3 separate regions of the Homo sapiens genome follow, and regions 2 and 3 are each linked to region 1. Evidence: fine-mapped expression QTL. A gene starts in region 1. Each other region holds a variant in brackets. All regions are shown on one strand. Distances are between the middles of the regions. Region 1 holds the start of CERS4 (ceramide synthase 4). Region 2 has its middle 28 kb from the start of CERS4. Region 3 has its middle 37 kb from the start of CD320.

Evidence for each region. PIP is the estimated chance that this variant, and not a neighbour inherited with it, causes the effect.
Region 2: its variant is fine-mapped to the expression of CERS4 in whole blood (TOPMed, PIP 0.98).
Region 3: its variant is fine-mapped to the expression of CERS4 in whole blood (INTERVAL, PIP above 0.99).

What each region holds. Positions count from the first base shown.
Region 1 is chr19:8,205,609-8,213,785 of GRCh38, forward strand. It overlaps CERS4 (ceramide synthase 4), which reads left to right and starts at 3,762. Exons shown (of 12, transcript NM_024552.3): 1 at 3,762-3,886; 2 at 5,098-5,254. RefSeq lists a silencer at 3,443-4,362.
Region 2 is chr19:8,177,232-8,185,408 of GRCh38, forward strand. No RefSeq gene overlaps it. Among named protein-coding and RNA genes, the nearest start is that of CERS4, 28 kb to the right of the region's middle. The variant A/C (reference allele first, on the strand shown) is at 3,888.
Region 3 is chr19:8,266,795-8,274,971 of GRCh38, forward strand. No RefSeq gene overlaps it. Among named protein-coding and RNA genes, the nearest start is that of CD320, 37 kb to the right of the region's middle. RefSeq lists an enhancer at 2,182-2,511. The variant CT/C (reference allele first, on the strand shown) is at 4,815.

The DNA.
Region 1 (8,177 bases):
TGAAACCCCGTCTCTACAAAAAATACAAAAATTAGCCGGGCGTGGTGGTGTGCGCCTGTAATCCCAGCTACTCGGGAGGCCAAGGCAGGAGAATCACTTGAACCTAGGAGGCAGAGGTTGCAGTGAGCTGAGATCGTGCCACTGCACTCCAGCCTGGATGACAGAGTGAGACTCCATCTCAAAATAAATCAGTAAGTCCATTGGTGCCTCTCCCTGGAGAGAACCCAGGAGGGCTTATTGTGGCTGGGCCAGCCCTGCTGTCCTCCCAGGAAACTTCCTCTCAGTATAGTTCCCCCACCCGCTCATTTCTCAGGGCTCAGATGTCACCTCTTCCAGGAAGCCTGCCTTGAACACCCACTCACTCTCAAGCTTGGGGTCCGGCCTGAGCTCCATGGTCAGGGATCGGGGTGGAAGGTGAGGACAGGCGAGAAGCTGCCCAACTGCAGAAGGTGCAGCCTGGGTCCCTTCCTGCCTGGCTGACCCCAGGTGTCTTCCTCCAGCTTCCCAACCTTTGCCCCATGTGGTACCTTCCACCTGAAATCTCTCTCCAGCCCTGGCCTGCCCAGGTCCTCTTTTGAGCTCCCCTACTCCACTTCTCCGGAGTCCTGGGGCTTCTCCACTGGGGCGTGGACTCCACCATTCCACCATGTATCCTGTATTATATTATCGTTATTGTTTGTAGATACCGGGGTCTCACTATGTTGCCCAGGCTGGTGTCTCTTTTTTTTTTTTTTAATTGAGACAGGATCTCACTCTGTTGCCCAGGCTGGAGTTCAGTGGCATGATCATAGTTCACCTCAGCCTTGACTTCTGGGCTCAAGTGATCCTCCCACTTCAGCCTTCTGAGTAGCTGGGACTATAGGAGCACACCACCACGCTTGGCTAATTTTTGTATTTTTGGTAGAGATGGGGCTCTTGCCATGTTACCGAGGCTTGTCTCAAACTCCTGAGCTCCAGCAATCCACTCACCTCAGCCTTCCAAAGTGCTAGGATTACAGGTGTGAGCGACCAAGCCCGGTCATATATTATTATTAATACAAACAAATGCCATGCTCTGAGCACCCTGGAGTATGCGACATGTGATATTCAATAACTCCCTAGTCACAACAACTGAGAAGAGTTGCTTTATTATCTTTCTTTTCCAGGTGTGCAAACAAGCTCTTGGAGGGAAGGAGAGGAGAAAATAAACAGGTGAATATGGTGGGGGTGGGGTAAAGCAGGCAATGGAGGAAGGAGGAGGGGACTGAGGCTCAGGGAGAAGTATGTATGCATTTGAAAAGGGAAAGAGGCTGGGGCACAGTGGCTCTTGCCTGTAATCCCAGCACCTTGGAAAGCGGAGGCGGAAGGATCACTTGAGCCTAAGCGTTCCAGACCAGCCTGGGCAACATAGCAAGACCCCACCTCTACCAAAGTTTTTTTTTTTGTTTTTTTTAATTGAGACAGAGTCTTGCTCTGTCACCCAGGCTGGAGTGCAGCGGCACGATTTTGACTCACTGCAACCTCCGCCTCCTGGGTTCAAGTGATTCTCCTGCCTCAGACTCTCGAGTAGCTGGGATTACAGGTGCGCAACACCATGCCCAGCTAACTTTGGTATTTTTAGTAGAGAAGGGGTTTCGCCATATTGGCCAGGCTGGTCTCGAACTCCTGACCTCACGTGATCCACCTGCCTCGGCCTCCCAAAGTGCTGGGATTACAGGCATGAGCCACCACACCCTGCCTACCAAAGTTTTTTTATTTAAAACAAAAAAAAATTAGCCGGGCATGGTGGCAGGCATCTATAGTCCTAGCTCCTCTGGAGGCTGAGGTGAGAGGACTGCTTGAGCCCTGGAGTCCCAGGCTGCAATGAGCTGGGATCATGACATTCCATTCTAGCCTGGGCAACAGAGTGAGACTCCCATCTTTAACGAAATTTTTTTTGATAGAGTCTCACTCTGTTGTCCAGGCTGGAGTGCAGTGGCACGATCTCCACGCACTGCAACCTCTGCCTCCTGGGTTCACGTAATTCTACTCCAGGCTAATTTTTGTGTTTTTAGTAGAGATGGGATTTTGCCACGTTGGCCAGGCTGGTCTCAAACTCCTGACCTCAGGTGATCCACCCGCCTCAGCCTCCCAAAGTGCTGGGATTACAGGTGTGAGCCACCGCACCCAGCCTCTAACAGATTTTTTTAAAAAAAGAAAAGAGAAGGTCGGGCATGCTGGCTCACGCCTGTAATCCCAGCACTTTGGGAAGCCAAGGCTGGTGGATCACGAGGTCAGGAGTTTGAGATCAGTCTGGCCAACATTGTGAAACCCCCGTCTCTCCAAAAAAAAAAATATATATATATATAAATTAGCCGGGTGTTGTGGGCGCCTGTAATCCTAGCTACTCGGGAGGCTGAGGCAGGAGAATCGAATGAAACCAGGATGCAGAAGTTGCAGTGAGCCGAGATCATGCCATTGCAGTCCAGCCCGGGCCACAATGCAAGACTCCGTCTCAAAAAAAAAAAAAGAAAAAGAAAAAAGAAAAGAGAAACAGTGTAGCAGAGGGAAGGCCAAGTGCAAACGCCAGGAGTCTGAACTTGGAGGGACAGGTTCTTCCACACTTGCAACAGAGGTCTCCTGCCTCCCTGACCGCCCCGCCCCCCGCGCCCCTGTCTGTGTGAGGAAATCAAATCTCAGCTTGCCTAGGGCCCTGTGGCAGGGAGGCCCCAACTTCACCCCATGGGTCTTGGGTCTGCTGAGCTGAGTCAGAGAAAGGTTTATTATCCCCATTTTACAGAGGCTTATTGTCCAAAGGCGAAGCCACTTGCCCAGAGTACATGCGGTGGGCCAGCGACTATGAAAACCCCTGGGGCTGTCCTCTGTTCAGGGATCGCCCAGGCTCCCTGCCCCTGCGCGCTGCTGAGACTGGGTCATTTTCGGTTCTACCAGGCAAGCGGGGGACCCAGCCCCCACTGCTGCTGCCCTCAGCCAAAACCAGGGCTGCGCCACCACCCACCCGGCCTATCTCCCATCTTATCTCCCCAGCTCTGTCGCCTGACCCCTGCACCCCACCAAATCGCAGCCTTTGCCCGGTGCCCTCACCGCCTCGGTTGGCCCCCGCGCGCGCCTCGGGCGAACCCCTGGACTGGCCCTCCAACAGGGCCCCAGACTCGGGGTACCCAGGGTGGCCGCTGAGGCCTGGAGAAATCTGGGCCTCCCCTGTGCACCATCCAACTGCGCGCCCCAGAGGCTCAGGGCGCCCCGGGAGTGTGGGGGTGTGGACAGATGAGCAGAGCCAGAGCATCTCGGGCAGAAGAGGGGACCTGGGAGGGGGCCGGGGAGACAGACAGCGAACAGGGGTGAAGCCGGGGCCGGACGGAGCGCGCAGCGGACAATACTGGGTTCAAAGGGGAGAGATAAGGCGCAGACTAGAAACGCTAGGCTGGACCCGGGCCAGGCGCGCCGCGGGGCAGAGATGGGCGGAGCGGGAACGGGGGCGGGGGCGAGAATGGGGGGGCGGGGACGGGGGCGGGGATGGGGTGCGGGTGCGGGGTCGGGGGCCAGGGAGAGGCCTAGTTGCGTCGAGGGGGGCAAGCGCCTGGAGGACCCGGCGCCCGCTCCAGGCCCTGCCCCTCCAAGTCCCCCGCCCCGCGCCAGGCCCCGCCTCTCCAGGGCCCCAGCCCCGCGCCAGGCCCCACCGTTCCGGGGCGCGTGCCCCGCCCAGGCCCCGCCCCCACGGCCCCGCCCCGGGCTCCCCCCACTCAAGCCTTTTTTCCCCTGCTGGGGGCCGAGGCCCGGCCAGGAGCAGAGTCCGGCTGCCTGGGGCGGGCGGCGCGTGTCTGCAGCTGCTCCGGGTAGCCCGCTAGGCGCGCCGTCCCCAGCCCCGCCGCCGGCCCTCGGTGCGCCCGGCCGCCTGCACCCCCAGGTAAGCGAGCACCCCGCGCCGCGAACACCGCCCCGAACGCCACCCTCACGGCGGTCCCCGGCCCCGCCTCCGCGGCCATGGCGGCCCCAGCCCGGCCCCCACTCGCAGCTGGGCTCCAGCCCCCATCACCCCGCCGGGGACTGTCCCCCTCGGGGCTTCCCATCATGGCCGTCTCCCCGAGCTATCCGCGCTCCCCCACGAGGGCCGGGGCGCAACGGGTGCCCGAGGACGCGGCTGTGAAACGGGCTGGAGCGAGTAGGGGCGATCCTGGCCTCGTGACGCGGGGGAATCCGGATGTGTGAGCCGGGGGAGCGCCCCGTTTCCCCGACGTGCCAGGGCTGGGGACGCAGCTGGGGCCCTGGCCTCGGAGTCCGCAGCCCGGCCGCGTAGACGGCTTCTGAGAACCGCTTAAACACGTCATTCCAAGCCCGAGCTAACCCATCAGGCGGCCGGGGTGAGGTGGAGGTGCCCAGGCGGGGATAATGTCATTTGGCCTGGTTGGACCAGCCAGCGAGGGCTTTTTAGGCCCAGGGCCTAGCCGGGAGTGTGTGCGGAGCAGAAAAGAGGCCAGCCTGGCTGAAACGCGGAGAGGGAGGGTCTGAGGTGGAGAGAGGTTGGCCGGGGCCTGGGAAGCGGCGAGGAGAGTGTGGAACCCGTTCTCGGGGCGGTGGGGACCAGGGAGGCTTGGAACAGCAGGTGCATGGCGTGATCGGATTGTGTCTTAAGAACATCCCGTAGCCGCTGTGGGTAGGAGAGATGGGGATACTTGGAAGGGGGCTTCTGGCTTGACCTGGCTGGAAGGTGTGATAGGAAGTGGGTGAACTGAAAATTCGCTTTGGCAGAGTAACATCGTCTAATTCTGTCTGTTTGCAAGTGGAGCGTGGGGGACCGATGTTTCTCCTGGGTAGTTAGGAGTATATAGAAGAGGCTTTCATTGCTGGGTTGGGAGACTTGAGGAGAAGCTGCTCTGGGGGACACAGGAAGGTGGGCAGGGGGAGAGGCTGTTGTGGTTTGCAAAACCTACCAGATGGGGGAATGCTCCCATCGACTCCAGTCTGAGCTCAGGCAAGGTCTCAGGCATCTGAGCGCAGAGGCCAGGGTGACCCCACTGGGGCGACCTGGGTCTGTTATATGGGGATAGGGTTCCTGGACTGTGGAATTGTCTTTGAAGCCCTCGGCCTCCCCCAGCCTCAAATGGGTCTGCCTTCCAGGAGCAGCTGCTGTGAATAAACACAGAAGTGGAGCTGGGGGACTGATTAGAAGCCTCATTCAGTGCACCTGGGCCCCAGCAGGCCCAGCCAGGCGTGGAGGAAGAGGCATTGAGGACTTTCCTTACCTGTTTTTCCAGCTCACCCACTGCCAGCAGAGGTACTTTGAGCCTGGGGTGTGGGGGGTGGGGGGCGGCCTTGGTCGTTGAACTGGCTGTAGGGCCCCCAGGGAAAGGTTTCTGAGCTTCAGTTTACCCATCTGTAAAATGGGTCAGTAGTATCTGAGCCTGGGAGTGTTCATGGATCGATGAAAGCCGAGGCTAGGCAGATCTCGGTGGCAGCCACACCCCTAAGGAACCGGAGAGGGTTCTAACGCCCGGTGGGAGTTCAGGGGGATGTATGGGCTTCCATTTCTCCTCTGAGAAATTCACAACAGTGTCCACCTCCTGACCCAGGGCTGTCTGCAGGTTGAATAAAGCGGTTGACCCAGTGCGTGGCACAGAATGTCTTGGCTCAGGAGCCACTGGGATGCCTGTAGTTGGCAGCAGAAGTGGGCCCAGGTTCCCTCCTCCCACCCGTGGGATGGCACAGAAAGGCAGGTGCCTTGGGAGCTCGCTGCCCTGTCCCCTTCTCTGAGCACCACAAGCTTCTCCCTTTCCGACTGGCTGGGCTTGAGCCTGACCACCCCCCAGCCCTGTCCTGCCACTTTGAGTTGAGGGCCTCCGGGCTACTGACTTCACCACTTCCTGCTTCAGTTTCTCCACCTGTAAAATGGGATAATAGCAGTCATGACCTATAGGTAAAGAGCTGAACACAGTGCCTGGCTGGTTGTGAATACGTGCTAAACAGGCTATTAAAATATCACGAGAATATCACAGAGCTGGAGGCTATTAAAATATCACGGAGGGGCTGGGCGTGGTGGCTCACGCCTGTAATCCCAGCACTTTGGGAAGCTGAGGCAGGCAGATCACCTAAGGTCAGGAGTTCGAGAGCAGCCTGGCCAACATGGTGAAACCCCATCTCTACTAGAAATACAAAAATTAGCCGGGCGTGGTGGCATGTACCTGTAATCTCAGCTGCATGGGAGACTGAGGCAGGAGAATCTCTTGAACCTGGGAGGCAGAATTTGCAGTGAGCCGAGATCGCGCCACTGCACTCCAGCCTGGGCAACAAAGTGAGACTATCTCCAAAAAAAAAAAAAAAAAAAAAAATTCAGAGTCATGCCTGGGGTCAGGGGGAGTCCAGAGGAGTCACCTGACTCAGCCTAAGGAGGAGTCAGGGAAGGCCTCCTGGAGGAGGTGACAGTTGGCTGGGTCGCTAAGGGTAAGGAGGAGTTAACCAGGCCAAGAGACCAGTGGGCAAATTGCAGAGGAGAGAAACTGCCAGGGTGCTTGGATGAAACAACCACAAAGCCAGGGTTGTAAGATCCAGAAGAGGGGAGAGGAAGAAGGGCAGAGCCAGCCTGCCAGCCTTGAACAAGCATTTGGCATTATTTAGAGCTCAGGGAACAGACTGCAGGGGTCGAAGGCAGGAGCCTGGAGACCAGGATGGAAGGGACTGCACCAGGCCAGGGGAGTAATGGTGGGGCTGGACCAGGTGAAGGCGTGGACGGGTGAGACTTGGGTGGATCTTGGAGAGATATGGAGAGGCCGGGGGAGGGAGCAGCTGCTCATGGGGGAGAAGCTTTAGGTGTAAGTCAGCAATCTGTTCTCAGCATCTGGAAATTGCCATGCTGCTAGACACCCAGGTGGTACGGCGTAGGATGGGCTTTAAAGCAAGCTGGGAGCTTGGGAGACAGCAGAAAGAGGGCAGAAGGAAAACCAGGAGTGGGTGGCAAGCTGGGAGCCAAGGGAGCTGGGGCTGTCATAGGAGGAAAGGGTCTTGAAACCCCTGTTTGATAATTCAGTAGCAGGCATCTTACTGTTTTTTTAATTATTATTTTTTTTATTTTTTGGAATGGAGTTTCGTTCTTGTCGCCCAGGCTGGAGTGCAATGGTGCGATCTCGGCCCACTGCAACCTCCACCTCCCGGGTTCAAGCAATTCTCCTGCCTCAGCCTCCTGAGTAGCTGGGATTACAGGTGCGAACCACCACACCTGGCTAATTTTTATATTATTAGTAGAGATGAAGGGGGGTGGGTTTCACCATGTTGGCCAGGCTGGTCTCGAACTCCTGACCTCAGGTGATGCACCTGCCTCGGCCTCCCAAAGTGCTGGGATTACAGGTGTGAGCCACTGCGCCCAGCCCGTCTCACTTTCTTTTGTGGCTGCTCTTTACCAACCCTGTTCTGTTCCCCATGCCTTTCAGTACAAGCTCTTTTCTTTGCTTTTCTTTCTTGTTTTTGTTTTGTTTTTTCAAGACAAGTTCTGGCTCTGTTGCCCAGGCTGGGGTGCAGTGGTGCGATCTTCGCCCACTGCAACCTCCACCTCCCAAGTTTAAGCAATCAGCCTGGGACTACAGGCATAAGCCACCACACCTGGCTAATTTTTGCATTTTTTTGTAGTGATTTTGTAGAGTTTTGCCAGTTGCCCAGGCTGGTCTGAAACTATTGAGCTCAAACGCCTCAGCCTCCTAAAGTACTGGGATTACAGGCATGAGCCACTGCACTCGGCCTCTTTCTTTCTTTCAAAGGCAGAATCTTGCTCTGTCGCTCAGGTTGGAGTGCAGTGGCATGATCATAACTCACTGCAGCCTCGACCTCCTGAGCTCAACCTCAGCCTCCTGAGAGCTGGGACCACAGGCATGCACCACCAGGCCTAGCTAATCCTTAAAAAAAAATTTTATACACATGGACAGGGGTCTTACTATGTTGCCCGGGCTGGTCTTGAACTCCTGGCCTCAAGCGAGCCTCCAGCCTCAACCTCCCAAAGCACTAGGATTATAGGCATGAGCCACTGTGCCTGGCCAAGCGCAGGCTTTTCTTTGCCATCCTTGAATAGGCCCCTCAGACCCATCATGGCTCTGACCAGAGTAGCATAGAGAGGCCCGGCGCGGTGGCTCACGCCTGTAATCCCAGCACTTTGAGAGGCCGAGGCGGGCAGATCACCTGAGGTCAGGAGTTCGAGACCAGCCTGGCCAATATAG
Region 2 (8,177 bases), 28 kb before region 1:
GGCAACAGAGCGAGACTCCATCTCAAAAAAAAAAAAAAAAAAAAAGGTAACAACCTAGGCAGGGTGCGGTGGCTCATGCCTATAATTTCAGAACTTTGGGAGGCTGAGGCAGGCAGATCACGAGGTCAGGAGATCAAGACCAGCCTGGCCAACACGGCAAAACCCCATCTCTACTAAAAATACAAAAATTAGCTGGGCGTGGTGGCACCTGCCTGTAATCCCAGCTACTCAGGAGGCTGAGGCAGGAGAATTGCTGGAACCCGGGAGGTGGAGGTTGCAGTGAGCTGAGATCGTGCCATTGCACTCCAGCCTGGGTGACAGGACAAGACTCCGTCTCAAAAAAAAAAAAAAAAAAAAAAATCTATAGTAAATGCCTTCTAAAACCGTATCTTTATCACTGCCCTATAACTCTATATAGATTCTTGGCTACTAAGCCAATAGCTGGGATGATATAAATGTAATGCAGCTGCTATCTGAATAACAAGCATGGAAAAGTGAATATGTGTGTGTGCAGATAATGCTCTACAAACATACAACTTATGACATTTTCTGTAACCATAATCAATTTCTTGTAGTTCAGTGAGTTGACCCCCTTCATGATCAGTGTTAGGGGCATGTGAAAGAGGTGATTGGTTGATTGATTGATTGATTGATTGATTTAGAGACAGAGTCTCTGTCTGTCACCCAGGCTGGAGTGCAAAGGTGTGATCTTGGCTCGCTGAAACCTCCGCCTCCTGGCTGCAAGCAATTCTGCTGCCTCAGCCTCCCGATTAGCTGGAAATACAGGCACCTGCCACCACGCCCAGCTAATTTTTGTATTTATATTGAAGACGGGATTTCACCATGTTGGCCAGGCTGGTCTCAAACTCCTGAACTCAAGTGATCCACCCACCTCGGCCTCCCAAAGTGCTGGGATTACAGGCATGAGCCACCACACCTGACCAAAGAGGTGTATTATTCTTTTGCAATTTCCTTTTAACCAGCTGGTTTTGTTATCTACTTCTGATTATGTCGCTGATACAGGCCATTTTCTGTTATCAGATCAAAAAGCAGCAAAGCCAGGCATAGTAGTGCACAACTATAGTCTCAGCTACTCAGGAGCCTGATGGGAGAATTGCTTGAGCCCAGATTGAGGCCACATTGAGCTGAGATGGCACTACCATACTCTAGCCTGGGTGACAGAGCGAGACCCTGTCTCAATTAAAAAAAGAAAAGAAAAGAAACAGGCCAGGCGCGGTGTCTCACGCCTGGAATCCCAGAACTTTAGGAGGCCGAGGCGGGTGGATCATTTGAGGTCAGGAGTTTGAGACCAGCCTGGCCAACATGGTGAAACCCTGTCTGTACTAAAAATACAAAAATTAGCCAGATATGGTGGCAGGCGCCTGTAATCCCAGCTACACAGGTTGCTGAGGCAGGAGAATCGCTTGAACCCAGGAGGCAGACAGAGGTTGCAGTGAGCCGAGATTGCGCCATTGCACTCCAGCCTAGGTGACAGAGTGAGACTCCATCTCAAAAAACAAACAAACAAAGAAAACACAAAACTTTTATGGAATTCCAGAATCCTTTCTTCCTTCACTACTTCCTCTACTTTTGCTCTATTTCAAATTATTTATTTTTGACCTCATAATTTTTTGTGTGTGGATGGGTAGGCAGAATGAATTAACAGTACAAATCTTACCTCAAAGACTAGCTATAAAATAAGAAAAAGCGCCAAGCCAGAGTTTGAACTTCCAGGTTATAATACTGATTCTGTCATCAAACAGCTTTGTGACACCAAAGGAGTTTACTAAGTTCTTTGGATTTATTTATTATTATGTTAGATGGAGTGTCACTCTATTGCCCAGGCTGGAGTGCAGTGGCACAATCTCGGCTCACTGCAACATCTGCCTCCTGGGTTCAAGCGATTCTCCTGCCTCAGCCTCCCGAGTAGCTGCGATTACAGGCATGTGCCACCTTGCCCAGCTAATTTTTGTCTTTTTAGTAGAGACGGGGTTTCACCATGTTGGCCAGGCTGGTCTCAAACTCCTGGTCTCTAGTGATTTGCCTGCCTTGGCCTCTCAGAGTACTGAGATTACAGACGTGAGCCACTGTGCCCAGCTGGAAATGGATTTTAAATCTCTGAGATGTGAAAGCATTTTCTAAGCTTAAGAGCAGAGGGCAAAATGGTCAAGCAATGTACTGAGTTGTCTCTCTTTAAAACTTAAAGAGGAATTCTTAGCCAGGTGCTGTGGCTCATGCCTGTAATCCCAGCACTTTGGGAGGCCAAGGTGAGAGAATCACTTGAGCCCAGGAGTTTGAGACCAACTTGGGCAATGTAGTGAGACCACATCTCTGCAAAAAATAAAAATTAGCTGGGTATGGTCGCACATGCCTGTAATCCCACCTACTTGGGAAGCTGAGGTGGGAGGATCACTTGAACCCAGGAGGCTGAGGCTTCTGTGAGCTATGATAGTTCCACTGCACCCCAGCCTGGGCAACACAGTAAGACTCTATCTCTAAAAAAGAAAAGAGAATGAGACATCTTTTGTCTATTTTAATCTAACCTTTTTTTTTTTTTCCTGAAGACTCTTACCCCAGCTTGCAGCTTTTTTTTTTTTTTTTTTTTTTTTGACAGAGTTTTGCTTTGTCGTCCAGGCTGGAGTGCAGTGGCGTAATTTCGGCTCACTGCAACCTCTGCCTCCCAGGTTCAAGTGATTCTCCTGTCTCAGCCTCCCTAGTAGCCAGGATTACAGACACACACCACCATGCCCAGCTCATTTTTGTATTTTTAGTAGAGATGGGGTTTTGCCATGTTGGCCAGGCTGGTCTCAAACTCCTGGCCTCAGGTGATCCACCCTCCTCAGCCTCCCAAAGTGCTGGGATTACAGGCATGAGCGACTGTGCCCGGCCAGCTTGCTGCTTTTAGCATAAATTTCAGGCTTCTGGTGAGCTCTTGGCAACATGTACCAAGAATCATAACGTGTTTGCCTTTTTCCAGCCAGTATTTCCACTGCTGGGAATCCATGAGAAAGAAATATGAGAAATAGGCAAATATTTACATATAACAATGCTTCTGTTATTGTTATTTTAATATTCAGTTAGTGCAAAGCCTGAGGTATCCGGTACGCTGTGTACAATCACGTGATAAGATCCAATATGCAGTTATGAAAAATGTTTGTAGATTTTCTTTAACAATATGTAAAATATTTTCATACTATTTTTACAGAAAAAAGCAGGATATTGGGAGGCCAAAGCAGGCGGATCACTTGAGGCAAGGTGTCCAAGGCCAGCCTGGCCAACATGGTGAAACCCCATATCTACTAAAAATACAAAAAATTAGCAGAGTGTGGTGGCACAAGCCTGTAATCCCAGCTATTTGGGAGGCTGAGGCAGGAGAATTGCTTGAACCTGGGAGGCAGAGGTTGCAGTGAGCCGAGATGGCACCATTGCACTCCAGCCTGGGTGACAGAGTGAGACTCCATCTCAAAAAAAAAAAAAAAAGAAAGAAAAAGAAAAATGCAGGATATAGGATAAAACATTTTTTTCTAGATGTTGCCGTAATTAAAAATTTTGTTGCCTATATGGCCAGGAGTGGTGGCTCACGCCTGTAATCCCAGCACTTTGCGAGCCGAGGTGGGTGGATCACTTGAGGCCAGGAGTTCGAGATCAGCCTGGGCAACATGGTGAAACCCCATCTCTACTAAAAATACAAAAATTAGCCGGGCGTGGTGGTGCATGCCTGTAATGCCAGCTACTCGGGAGGGTGAGGCATGAGAAGTGCTTGAGTCCGGGAAGTGGAGGTTGCAATAAGCTGAGATTACACCGCTGTGCTCCACCCTGGGTGACAAAGCAAGACTGACTCAAAAAAAAAAAAAAAAAAAAAAGATGTTTCCTATATAGCAACAGGA[A/C]ATCTCACTCTTTGCTGAGAGAAATGCCAAACAGTACAGCCACTCTAGAAGACAGTGTGACAGCTTCTTACAAAACTAAACATACTCTTACCATATAACCAATTAATTTCACTCCTAGATATTTACCCAAACGAGTTGAAAGCTCATGTCTACAAGAAAACCCGCACATGGGCCAGGTGCAGTGGCTCATACCCGTAATCCCAACACTTTGGGAGACCGAGGCGGGCAGATCACGAGGTCAGGAGTTCAAGACCAGCCTGGCCAATATGGTGAAACCCTGTCTCTACTAAAAATACAAAAATTAGCTGCGCGTGGTGGCATGTGCCTGTAGTCCCAGCTACTCAGGAGGCTGAGGCAGGAGAATCACTTGAACCCGTGAGGCAGAGGTTGCAGTGAGCCGAGATCACACCACTGCACTCCAGCCTGGGCGACACAGGGAGACTCCGACTCAAAAAAAAAAAAACAAACTGGCCGGGTGCGGTGGCTCATGCCTGTAATCCCAGCACTTTGGGAGGCCGAGGCGGGAGGATCACGAAGTCAGGAGATCGAGACCATCCTGGCTAACACGGTGAAACCCTGTCTCTACTAAATATACAAAAAATTAGCCGGGCATGGTGGCAGGTGCCTGTAGTACCAGCTACTCGGGAGGCTGAGGCAGGAGAATGGCGTGAACCCAGGAGGCAGAGCTTGCAGTGAGCCGAGATGGCGCCACTGCACTCCAGCCTGGGCGAGAGAGTGAGACTCTGTCTCAAAACCAAAAAAACAAAACAAAACAAAACCTGCACACGGATGTTTACAGCAGTATTATTCATAATTGCATAAAACTTGGAAGCAACCAAGATGCCCTTCGGGAGTTGAATGAATAAATAAACAGTGGTACTTTCAGACAATGGGAACTCATTAATTAAAATAAATGAGCTCTTGCTGGGCACAGTGGCACAAGCCTGTGGTCCCAGATACTCAGGAGGCTGAAGTGGAAGGATTGCTTGAGCCTAGGAGTTCCAGGTCAGACTGGGGGACAGAGAAAGACCATGTCTCTAAATAAATTAATTTAAATTACAATATATTTTTTCTTTTCTTTTCTTCTAACACAGAATCTCACTCTTGTCACCCAGGCTGGAGTGCAGTAGTGCTATCTTAGCTCAGTGCAGCCTCCGCTTCCCAGGTTCAAGCAATTCTGCCTCAGCCTCCTGAGTAGCTGGGACTACAAGTGCGTGCCACCACGCCCGGCTAATTTTTGAATTTTTAGTAGAAACAGGGTTCCAACAAGTTTGCCAGGCTGGTCTCGAACTCCTGACCTCAAGTGATCTGCCCACCTTGGCCTCCCAAAGTGCTGGAATTACAGGTGTAAGCCACTGTGACCAGCCTAAAAAAATTTTTTAATTATCCAGGCATGATGGTGCACCTGTAATCCCAGCTACTCAGGGAGGCTGAGGCAGGGGGATGGCTTGAGCTGGAGAGGTCGACACTGCAGTGAACTGTGATGGTGCCACTGCACTCCAGCCTGGATGACAGAGAAAGAGCCTGGCTAAAAAAACATATAACTAGCCGAGCAAAACTCCTTCTCAAAAAAAAAAAAAAAAAAAAAGTGAGCCCTAATGTAGGCTGTGGACTCGGGGTGATGAGGACGGGTCCCTGGAGATTCATCAAGTATAACCAATGCACCACTCTAGTGGCGGACATTGATAAGGAGGAGGCTGGGCTTGGGGAGCAGGGTAGATATATGGGAAATCTCTGTACTTTCCACTCAATTTTGCTGCAAACCTGAACTGCTATAAATCAGAACGTTTATGGGCTGGGTGCAGTGGTTCACGCCTGTCATCCCAGCACTTTGGGAGGCCAAGGCAGGAGGATCGCTTGAGCCCAGGAGTTTGAGACCACCCTGAGCAACATAGCAAGGCCCCATCTCTACAAAAAAAAAAAAAAGAAAGAAAATACAAAAATTAGCCAGGTGTGGTGGTGTGCATCTGTAGTCCCAGCTACTCGGGAGGCTGAGGCAGAAGGATGGCTTGAGCCTGGGAGGTGGAGTTGGCACTGAGCTGTGATTGCATCACTGCACTCCAGCCTCAGTGACAGAGCCAGACCTTGTCTTAAAAAAAAAAAAGCCCATGGGAAAACAAATACTGTTTTCCTCTGCTTGAGTGAAAGAAGCCAGTCTCGCTGGGCGCGGTGGCTCACGCCTGTAAGTCCCAGCACTTTGGGAGGCCGAGGTGGGCAGATCACCTGAGGTCGGGAGTTCGAGACCAGCCTGGCCAACATGGAGAAACCCCGTCTCTACTAAAAATACAAAGTTAGCTGGGCATGGTGGCGCATGCCTGTAATCCCAGCTACTCGGGAGGCTAAGGCAGGAGAATCGCTTGAACCCAGGAGGTGGAGGTTGCAGTGAGCCGAGATCGTGCCATTGCACTCCAGCCTGAGCAACAAGAATGAAACTCCATCCAAAAAAAAAAAAGAAAAGAAAGAAAGAACCCAGTCTCACAAGGCTATCCAGTGTGTGACTGATTCCATTTATACAACAGTCCCGGAAAGGCTAAATTATGGCGACAGAGAGCCGATCAGTGGTTGTCAAGGAGAAGGAAGGAAGGATGTGACTCCTAACGGGCAGTGTAAGGGAATTTTACGGGGTGATGAAGTTGTTCTTTTTCTTTCTTTCTTTCTTTCTTTTTTTTTATTTGAGACAGAGTCTCGCTCTGTCACCCAGGCTGGAGTGCAGTGGATCTCGGCTCACTGCAACCTCCATCCCCTGGGTTCAAGCAATTCTCCTGCCTCAGCCCCCCGAGGACCTGGAACCACAGGTGTGCGCCACCATGCCTGGCTAATTTTTGTATTTTTAATAGAGACGGGGTTTCACCACATTGGCCAGGCTGGTCTCAAACTCCTGACCTCAGGTGATCCACCTGCATCAGCCTCGCAAAGTTCTGGGATTACAGGCATGAGCCACCCCATCCAGCATTTTTTTTTTCTTTTTTTTTTTCTTTTTCTTTTTCTTTTTCTTTTCTTTTTTTTTTTTTCTTTTTTTTTTTTTTTTTTTTTTTTTGAGACAGTCTTGCTCTGTCGCCCAGGCTGGAGTGCAGTAGTGTGATCTCAGCTCACTGCAACCTCTGCCTCCCAGATTCAAGTGATTCTTATGCCTCAGCCTCCCAAGTAGCTGGTATTACAGGCATGCGCCACCATACCTAGGTCATTTTTGTATTTTTGATAGAGATGGGGTTTCCCCACGTTGGCCGGGCTGCTCTTGAAATCCTGACCTTATGTGATCCGCTGGACTCGGCCTCTCAAAGTGCTGGCGTTACAGGCATGAGCCACAGCGCCCAGCCAGATTTTAATTTTTTTTTTTATAGATAGGGTCTCACTACATTGCCCAGGCTGGACTCCAACTCCTAGGTTCAAGCAATGCCGCCTCGGCCTCCCAAAGTGCTGGGATTACAGGTATGAGGTGCTGCATCCAGCCTAAAAAATTGATTTAATGCAAAAAAAAAAAAGAAAATCCTGGTGCCTGACCCCTGGCTGTCCTCAGCTGGCCCATAAGACCCTGATGACTTTTGAGCTCTGAATCAAGGGTTGGCATATCTAGACCTGCTGCAAGCTACAGATACTCAGAACCATGCACGAGGTTGCAAATCCTACATATGATTTCCAGAATCCACATCCCATCTGCACTCTTTCTGGTAGAGCACACCTTGTTCCTGGGGCTCCAGGACAAATGGGTGCATCAAAGCTAACTTCCGGCCCTGGGCAGTGGCTCACGCCTGTAATCCCAGCACTTTGGGAGGACGAGGCAAGAGGATCACCTGAGGTCAGGAGTTCAAGACCAGCCTGGCCAACAAGGTGAAACCCCATCTCTACTAAAAATACAAAAATTAGCTGGATACGGTGGCCCATGCCTGTAATTCCAGCTACTCAGGAGGCTGAGGCAAAAGAATCGCTTGAACCTGGGAGGCGGAGGTTGCAGTAAGCTGAGCTCATGCCACTGCACTCTAGCCTTGGAGACAAAGTGAGATTCTGGCAAAAGAAAAGAAAAGAAAAAAAGCTACCTTCCACCAGCCACAATGGCTCACGCCTGTAATCCCAACATTTTGGGAGCCCAGGAGTTTGAGACCAGCCTGCAGCCTGGGCAACATAGCAGGAAACTCTCTCTAAAAAGGAAGAAAAGAAAAATTCGCCAGGCATGGTGGCGCACACCTGTAGTCCCAGCTACTTGGAAGGCTGAGGTGGGAAGCTGGCTTGAGCCTGGGAAATTGAGGCTGCAGTGAGCTATGATCATGCCACTACACTCCAGCCTGGGCAACA
Region 3 (8,177 bases), 61 kb after region 1:
ATCCCAGCTACTCGGGAGGCTGAGACATGCCAGCACTCCAGCCTGGCAACAGAGTGAGATTTTGTCTCCAAAAAAAAAAAAAAAAAAAAAAAGATGAATAGCAAAAATATAAAAATATTACATGTCAATGTTTGTGGAGTGTAGCTTAAGCAATCCTTTGGAGGAAGTTTGCAGCCTAACAGGCTTATATTAGAAACGAAAAAAAAAAAAAAGCAGCCTGGCGTGGTGGCTCACACCTGTAATCCCAGCACTCTGGGAGGCCAAGGGGGGTGGATCATGAGGTCAGGAGTTTGAGATCAGTCTGACCAACATGGTGAAACCCCGTCTCTACTAAAGATACAAAAAAAAAAAAAAAAATTAGCCAGCAGTGGTGGCACGTGCCTGTAATCCCAGCTACTCAGGAGGCTGAGGCAGGAGAATCGCTTGAACCCAGGAGGCAGAAGTTTCAATGAGCCAAGATTGTGCCATTGTACTCCAGCCTGGGCAACAGGGTGAGACTCAAAAAAAAAAAAAAAAAAAAAAAAAAAAGAAAAAGCTCAAAAATAATTAGCTAAGCATTTAAGAAGATTTTAAAGAACAGTAAAATAAGCTCAATAAAAGAAAAAACAGGATAAGTGTTAAAATTAGGATCATCAAACCTAAAAGTTAGTTATTTGAATGACTAACAGACGAACATCTGGCAAGATTAATAAAGAAAAATAAAAGAAGTCACAGAAAAAAATATAGAGACAGGCCAGGTGCGGTGGCTCATACCTGTAATCCCAGCACTTCTGGAGACCAAGGGAGAGGATCACTTGAGCCCAGGAGTTCAAGATCAGCCTGGCAACATGGCAAGACCCCCATCTCTGCACAAAATTTAAAAATCAGGCATGGTGGTATGTGCCTGTAGTCCCAGCTACTCAGGAGCTCAAGGCAGGAGGACCACTTGAACCAGGAGTTCAAGGCTGCAGTGAGCCGTGATCTTGCCACTGCACTCCAACCTGAGGAATAGTGGAAGGCCCCAACACTAAAAAACAAAAATAAAGCATCATACATGTCAAATGTTATATTTAATGTCATATTTAATTGTTGGGTACATAACCCTTAAGGTAAGAAATAAGACAATAGCTGCTATCGCCACCCTTATTCAAAATTATTCTGGGAGTTCTAGTTAACAATAAATCAAAAAAGGCCGGGCGCGGTGGCTCACGCCTGTTAATCCCAGCACTTTGGGAGGCCGAGGCAGGCAGATCACCTGAGGTCGGGAGTTCGAGACCAGCCTGACCAACATGGAGACACCCCATCTCTACTAAAAATACAAAAAAATTAGCCGGGTGTGGTGGCGCATGCCTGTAATCCCAGCTACTTGGGAGGCTGAGGCAGGAGAATCACTTGAACCTGGGTGGCGGAGGTTGCAGTGAGGCGAGGTCACGCCATTGCATTCCAGCCCAGGCAACAAGAGTGAAATTCCGCCAATTAAAAAAAAAAAAACCGTAAAACAAAAAAAGATATCAGTAGGAGAAATAAAGAGAATAAAACTGCCCATTATTAGTCTATGACATATCTATATCAAAAACCCAGGATGTAGAAGGCAGCACAAGATAACAGAATAGAAGGCTCCACCAACCATCCCTCCAACAAGGACACCAATTTAACAGCTACACACAAAAAAGCACTTTCCCAAGAACCAAAAATCCCAGCCGGGAGCAGTGGCTCATGCCTGTAGTTCCAGCTACTCAGGAGGCTGAGGCAGGAGAATCACTTGAACCCGGGAGGCAGAGGTTGCAGTGAGCCGAGATCGCGCCACTGCACTCCAGCCTGGGCGACAGAGCAAGACTCTGTCTCCGAAAAAAAAAAAAAAAAAAAAAAAAAAAAAAAAAAAAAAAAAAAAAAAAAAAAAGAAGAACCAAAAATCAGGTGAGCACTCACAGTACCCGGTTTTAACTTTATATCACTGAAAGACACACTGAAGAAACACACTGAAAGTCCTGAATCTCTGACACCACCTCTCCGCCACCCCTGGCAGCATGGTGTGGAGAGTGCCTTTGTGTGTTGGGGAGAGGGAGGGGGCAGCAATTGTGAGGCATGGAACCCAGCGCTGTCCTTTTAGAGCAGAAAGAAAAACCCGACCACACTCAGCTGATGCCCACCCATAGAGGGTGTGGGCGGCAAGCCACCCAGGTGCCGAGGCAAGAGACTGAGGGCACAAGTTGTTCCAGTAAAATAAAAAATATATATAAAATAAAAATAGTTACACCAGAAGACAAGAGTGCGAGCCCTCTGTTATGCCCGGACAGGGCCACTAGAGGGCTCCATGGTCTAGCGGTAATGCCGGCGCCTGGGAAGGCACCCGTTACTTAGCAGACCGGGAAAGGGAGTCTCCCTTTCCTTGGGGGAGTTAGAGAAGACTCTGCTCCACCACCTCTTGTGGAAGGCCTGACATCAGTCAAGCCCCCACCATCCCCACCTGCCAACAGCCATCCAGAGGCCTAACAGTCTAGCCTCTGTCATGCTGTGCTTCAGCGGTCACGCTCCTGTTTCACTTTCATGTTCCACCCTGTACACCTGGCTCTGCCTTCTAGAAAACAGTAGCAGAATTAAGTGAAAGTATTAAGCCGTTGACCTCTCCAAGAAATAATGACATAAGCTGTCCCCTCTCTCTGCCTCGGCTACCAAACAGGGAAGGGCCCCCTGTCCAGTAGACACATGACTCACGTGACCTTACCTATCACTGGAGATGGCTCAACACTCCTTACCCTGCCCCCTTGCCTTATATCCAAAAAATAACAGTGCAGCCAGGCATTCAGGGCCACTACCGGTCTCTGCGTCTTGGTGGTAGTGGTCCTCCAGGCCCCAGCTGTCTTTCCTTCTCTTTGCCTTGTGTCTTTATTTCTACGATCTCTCATCTCCACACACGAGGAGAAAAACCCACAGGCCCTGTAGGGCTGGTCCCTATAGAGGGGGCATTTAAACCAGCCCTAACAAGAGGGAAATTATGGATCCCAGTGGAATTTGAGTTCCTGCAAACTTTGCGACCCACCATGGGCTAAAGTGCTCTGGGTCTCTAAGTAAATTTGAAAGTCAGTCTAGGCTATCAGTGCAACTCCTAGGCAAGTCCTAGTGAGGTAGAAGATAAGATTTGACTTCAGAGGTGGGGCTCAGACACCAGACCATATTGAGGACTAGCTAAAACAGGTGAAGGAAAAGGGAGGGGGAAGCAGCTTTCGATGAGACATGCCTGCCAGTGTGCCGTGTCAATTTCACATTACCATGCTAACATCAAGGAATTACTGCCCCTTTCCAGGCAATGCCCCAATGATTAGTACCCCCTTCCCTAAAAGTTTCTACATAAACTGCCCCTTAATCTGCATGCGATTAAAAGTGGGTATATGCCAGGCACAGTGGCTCACGCCAGTAATCTCAGCACTTTGGGAGGCTAAGGCAGGTGGATCGCTTCAGCCCAGGAGTTCAAGACCAGCCTGGCCAACATGTCAAGACCCCATCTCTGCTAAAAATACAAAAACTGGCGGGGCAGGGTGGCTCATGCCTGTAATTCCAGCACTTTGGGAGGTTGAGGAGGACAGATCACAAGCTCAAGAGATCGAGACCACCCTGGCTAATGCAGTGAAACCCCGTGTATACTAAAAAATACAAAAAATTAGCCAGGCCTGATGGTGGGCACCTGTAGTCCCAGCTACTCAGGACGCTGAGGCAGGAGAATGGTGTGAACCCAGGAGGTGGAGCTTGCAGTGAGCCAAGATCGTGCCACTGCACTCCAGCCTGAGCGACAGAGTGAGACTCCATCTGAAAAAATTAGCCAGGCCTGCTGGTGCCCGCCTGTAGTCCCACCTACTTGGGAGGCTGAGGCAGAAAAATCACTGGAACCCAGGAGGCGGAGGTTGCAGTAAGCTGTGATCACGCCATTGCACTCCAGTCTGGGCAACATGAGCGAAACTCCGTCTCAAAACTAAAAGAAAAGATGAAGATGAAAAGAATACCTTTATGGAAAAATATAAAATGCAAAACTTGCACCAAGAGGTACCAAAAAACTTTACTAAATCCATAAATATTAATGAAATGGAAATAACTTGGGGGAGGGGGCAGACAATATGGTTCATGCCTGTGATCCCAACATTTTGGGAGGCTAAGGTAGACAGATCACTTGAACCCAGGTGTTTAAGACCCATCTGGTCAACATAGCGAAACCTGGTCTCTACAAAACAATTTAAAAATTAGGCCGGGCGCGGTGGCTCACACCTGTAATCCCACCACTTTGGGAGGCCGAGGTGGGTGGATCACAAGGTCAAGAGATCGAGACCATCCTGGCTAACATGGTGAAACCCTGTCTCTACTAAAAATACAAAAAATTAGTTGGGCGTGGTGGCGGGCACCTGTAGTCCCAGCTACTCGGGAGGCTGAGGCAGGAGAATGGCCTGAACCCGGGAGGCGGAGCTTGCAGTGAGCCGAGATTGCGCTACTGCACTCCAGCCTTGGCGACAGAGGAAGACTCCATCTAAAATTTAAAAAATAAAAATAAATAAAAATTAGCTGGATATGGTGGTGTGTGCCTGTAGTCCCCACTACTCGAGAGGCTGAGGCTGAAGGATCGCTTGAACCCAGGAGGTCAAGGCTATAGTGAGTCATGATGGTGCCACTGCACTCCAGCCTGGTTGACAGAGGGAGACCCTGTTGAAAGAAAAAAATGAGAGAAAGAGAGGAAGGGAAGGGGAAGGGAAGAAACAAACTACCTTCCGCTAAAGGACAAAACCCAGAGGATTTTTCAACCAAAGTTTTTGGGGTTTTTTTTTTTTTTTTTTTTTTTAGACGGAGTCTTG[CT/C]TTTTTTTTTTTTGAGACAGCGTCTCGCTCCGTCGCCCAGGCTGGAGTGCAGCGGCGCGATCTCTGCTCACTGCAAGCTCCGCCTCCCAGGTTCACGCCATTCTCCTGCCTCAGCCTCCCGAGAAGCTGCGACTACAGGCGTCCGCCACCACGCCTGGCTAATTTTTTTCTATTTTTAGTAGAAATGGGGTTTCACCATGTTAGCCAGGATGGTCTCGATCTCCTGACCTCGTGATCTGCCCGCCTCGGCCTCCCAAAGTGCTGGGATTACAGGCGTGAGCCACCGTGCCCGGCCCCAATCAAGTTTTATCAACATTTCAAGTAACAGTTATTTCTCATCTAATTCAGGCTGATACCAAGAAGAGGGGGAGGGAAAAAAAAGAGGGAAAGGGGGAGAATATCCAATTTCTTTTATTTTTAAATTTTTTATTTTGGAGACAGGGTTTTGCTCTGTTGCCCAGGCTGGAATGCAGTGGTGTGATCACAGATCACTGCAGCTTCCAACACTTGGGCTCAAGCAATCCTCCTGCCTCAGTCTTCCCAGTAGCTAGGATGACAGGTGCACACAACCACACCCAGCTAATTTTTTTATTTTTGGTAGAGATTAGGCCTTGCTATGTTGTCCAGGATGATCTGAATCTCCTAGCCTCAAACCATCCTCCCACCTCGGCCTCCCAAGCACTAGGATTACATGTGTGAGTCACCAAAATGAGTACAGGGCTTCCTTTTGGGGTCATGAAAATATTCTGGCAGTAGATAGATATGGTTGCACTGCACTGTGAATGTACCAAATGCCACTGAATCATTCACTTCACAATGGTTAATTTTATGTTATATGAATTTCACTTTGATAAAAACAGATGTGGCCGGGCACAATGGCTCATGCCTGTAATCCCAGCACTTGAGAGGCCAAGGCCAGTCGATCACCTGAGGTCAGGAGTTCGAGACCAGCCTAACCAATATGGTGAAACCCCATCTCGAATCTCTACTAAAAATACAAAAATTAGCCAGGCATGGTAGCATGCACCTGTTGTCCCAGCTACAGGAGGCTGAGACAGAAGAATTGCTTGAACCTGGGAGGTGGAGGTTGCAGTGAGCCAAGATCACACCACTGCACTCCAGCACTCCAGGTTGGATGACCGAGCACAACTCCATCTCAAAAAAAAAAAAAAAAAAAAAAAAAAAAAAAGAGGAGGCCAGGCACTGTGGCTAAATTCTATCATCCCAGCCCTTTGGGAGGCCAAGGCAGGTGGATGACTTGAGGCTAGGAGCTTGAGACCAGCCTGGGCAACATAATGAGACCCCATCTCACAAACAAAAAAGATTTCTTGGCCAGGAATGGTGGCTGACGCCTGTAACCCCAGCACTTTTGAGAGTCTGAGGCAGGTGGATCACAAGGTCAGGAGTTCAAGACCAGCCTAGCAAACATAGTGAAAACCCCATCTCTACTAAAGATACAAAAAATTAGCTGGGCGTGGTGGCACGTGCCTGTAATGCCAGCTACTCGGGAGGCTAAGGCAGGAGAATCACTCTAACTCAGGAGGCAGAAGTTGCAGTGAGCTGAGATCACAGCACCACTGCACTCCAGCCTAGGCAACAGAGCGAGACTCTGTCTCAAAAACAAAAAACAAGAACAAAAACAAACAACAGTTCTAGAGATGGGTGGTGGTGATGAGTGCACAACATTGTAAAAATACTGAATACCTTTGAAGCCCACTTTAAAATTGTTAAAGTGGTCAATTTTATGTTATTTTTAGGTATAATACTTACGTACTTTTTGTATTTTTTTCTATTATGTATTGATATGTATATTTAACAGTAGAAAAAAAATGATGGTCACTCGATCGGAAACAGAAAAGGTTAAAGCAAAAGTAAAATGCATGAAAACCAGGGAGAACTGCCAGATAAGCACATGGTCAGTGACCCTGGATTAGCCCGAGGCTGACTGGGTGTTGGACATGGGGAACGACCACCACCTAGGGGCAACTTGCCATCTGCCGCTATGTTCTTTCTGGGACTTGGAAAAACATGCATTACTAGGAACTTCCCCTACTGTTATTCCCTGTTTCCCCCGCCACCCCGCCCGAGACAGAGTCTTACTCTGTCTCCTAAGCCGGAGTGCAATGGCCGATCTCGGCTCACTGCAACACCCGCTTCCCGGGTCCAAGCGATCCTCCTGTCTCAGCCTCCTGAGAAGCTGGGATTATAGGCACAGGCCACCATGCCTGGCTAATGTTTGTATTTTTAGTAAAGACGGGATTTCGCCACGTTGGTCAGGCTGGTCTCGAGCTCCTGACCTCAAGTGATCCGACAGCCTTGGCCTCCCAAAGTGCTGGGATTACAGACGTCAGCCACCGCACCCGGCCTGTTATTTCCTCTTAATACTGACATCATCCTCCTGTTTACCAATCTTTGTCACAGACCAGGTGGCATCTCTGAGAAAACAGAAATCAGCAGGAGAGACCTTCCAGAGCCACTGCCCTCCATCAACCTGCAGACCTGCATCAGGACCCAGACGCAGTGGCTCTTCCTCTTGCCCTGTGAGAATCAATTTGCCCTGGATGCAGCAAAACCACGCCCCCTTCTCCACCAACTCCTCCACCCCTTCATGGGCCTAGACAAGCACCTACCTCAACAACCTCCCCGCACCCCTGGAGCATTCCTATCAGCACACAAATAGGTTGATGCATTTTTCCCTCCTTTGTTTTTATTATTAAGGTGAAACTCACACGGCATAAAATTAACCTTTGTTTTTTTTCCTTTTTTTTTTTTTGAGACTGAGTCTCGCTGTATTGCCCAGGCTGGAGTGCAGTGGCGCGATCTCGGCTCACTGCAACCTCTGCCTCCCAGGTTCAAGCGATTCTCCTGCCTCAGCCTCTCAAGTAGCTGGGACCACAGGCTCGTGCCACGACACCTGGCCAATTATTGTATTTTTAGTAGAGACAGGGTTTTGCTATGTTGGCCAGGCTGGTCTCAAACTCCTGACCTCAAGTGATCCACCTGCTTCAGCTTCCCAAAGTGCTGGGATTACAGGTATGAGCCACCATGCCCAGCCCCTTCTTTTTTTGAGAGAGAGAGAGAGAGACACAGACAGACAGAGTCTTTGTCACCCAGGCTGGAGTGTAGTGACTCGATCTCAGCTCACCACAACCTCCACCGCCCGCCTCAGCCTCCTGAGTAGCTGGGACTACAGGCACACGCCACCATACCCTGCTAATTTTTGTATTTTTTGTACAGAAAGGGTCTTGCTATGTTGCCTAGGCTGGTCTTGAACTCCTGGCCTCAAGGGATCCTCCTGCCTTGACCTCTCAAATTCATTTTCTTCTGAGGGCTTCTATTCCATGCAAAACTTCTATTAAGTA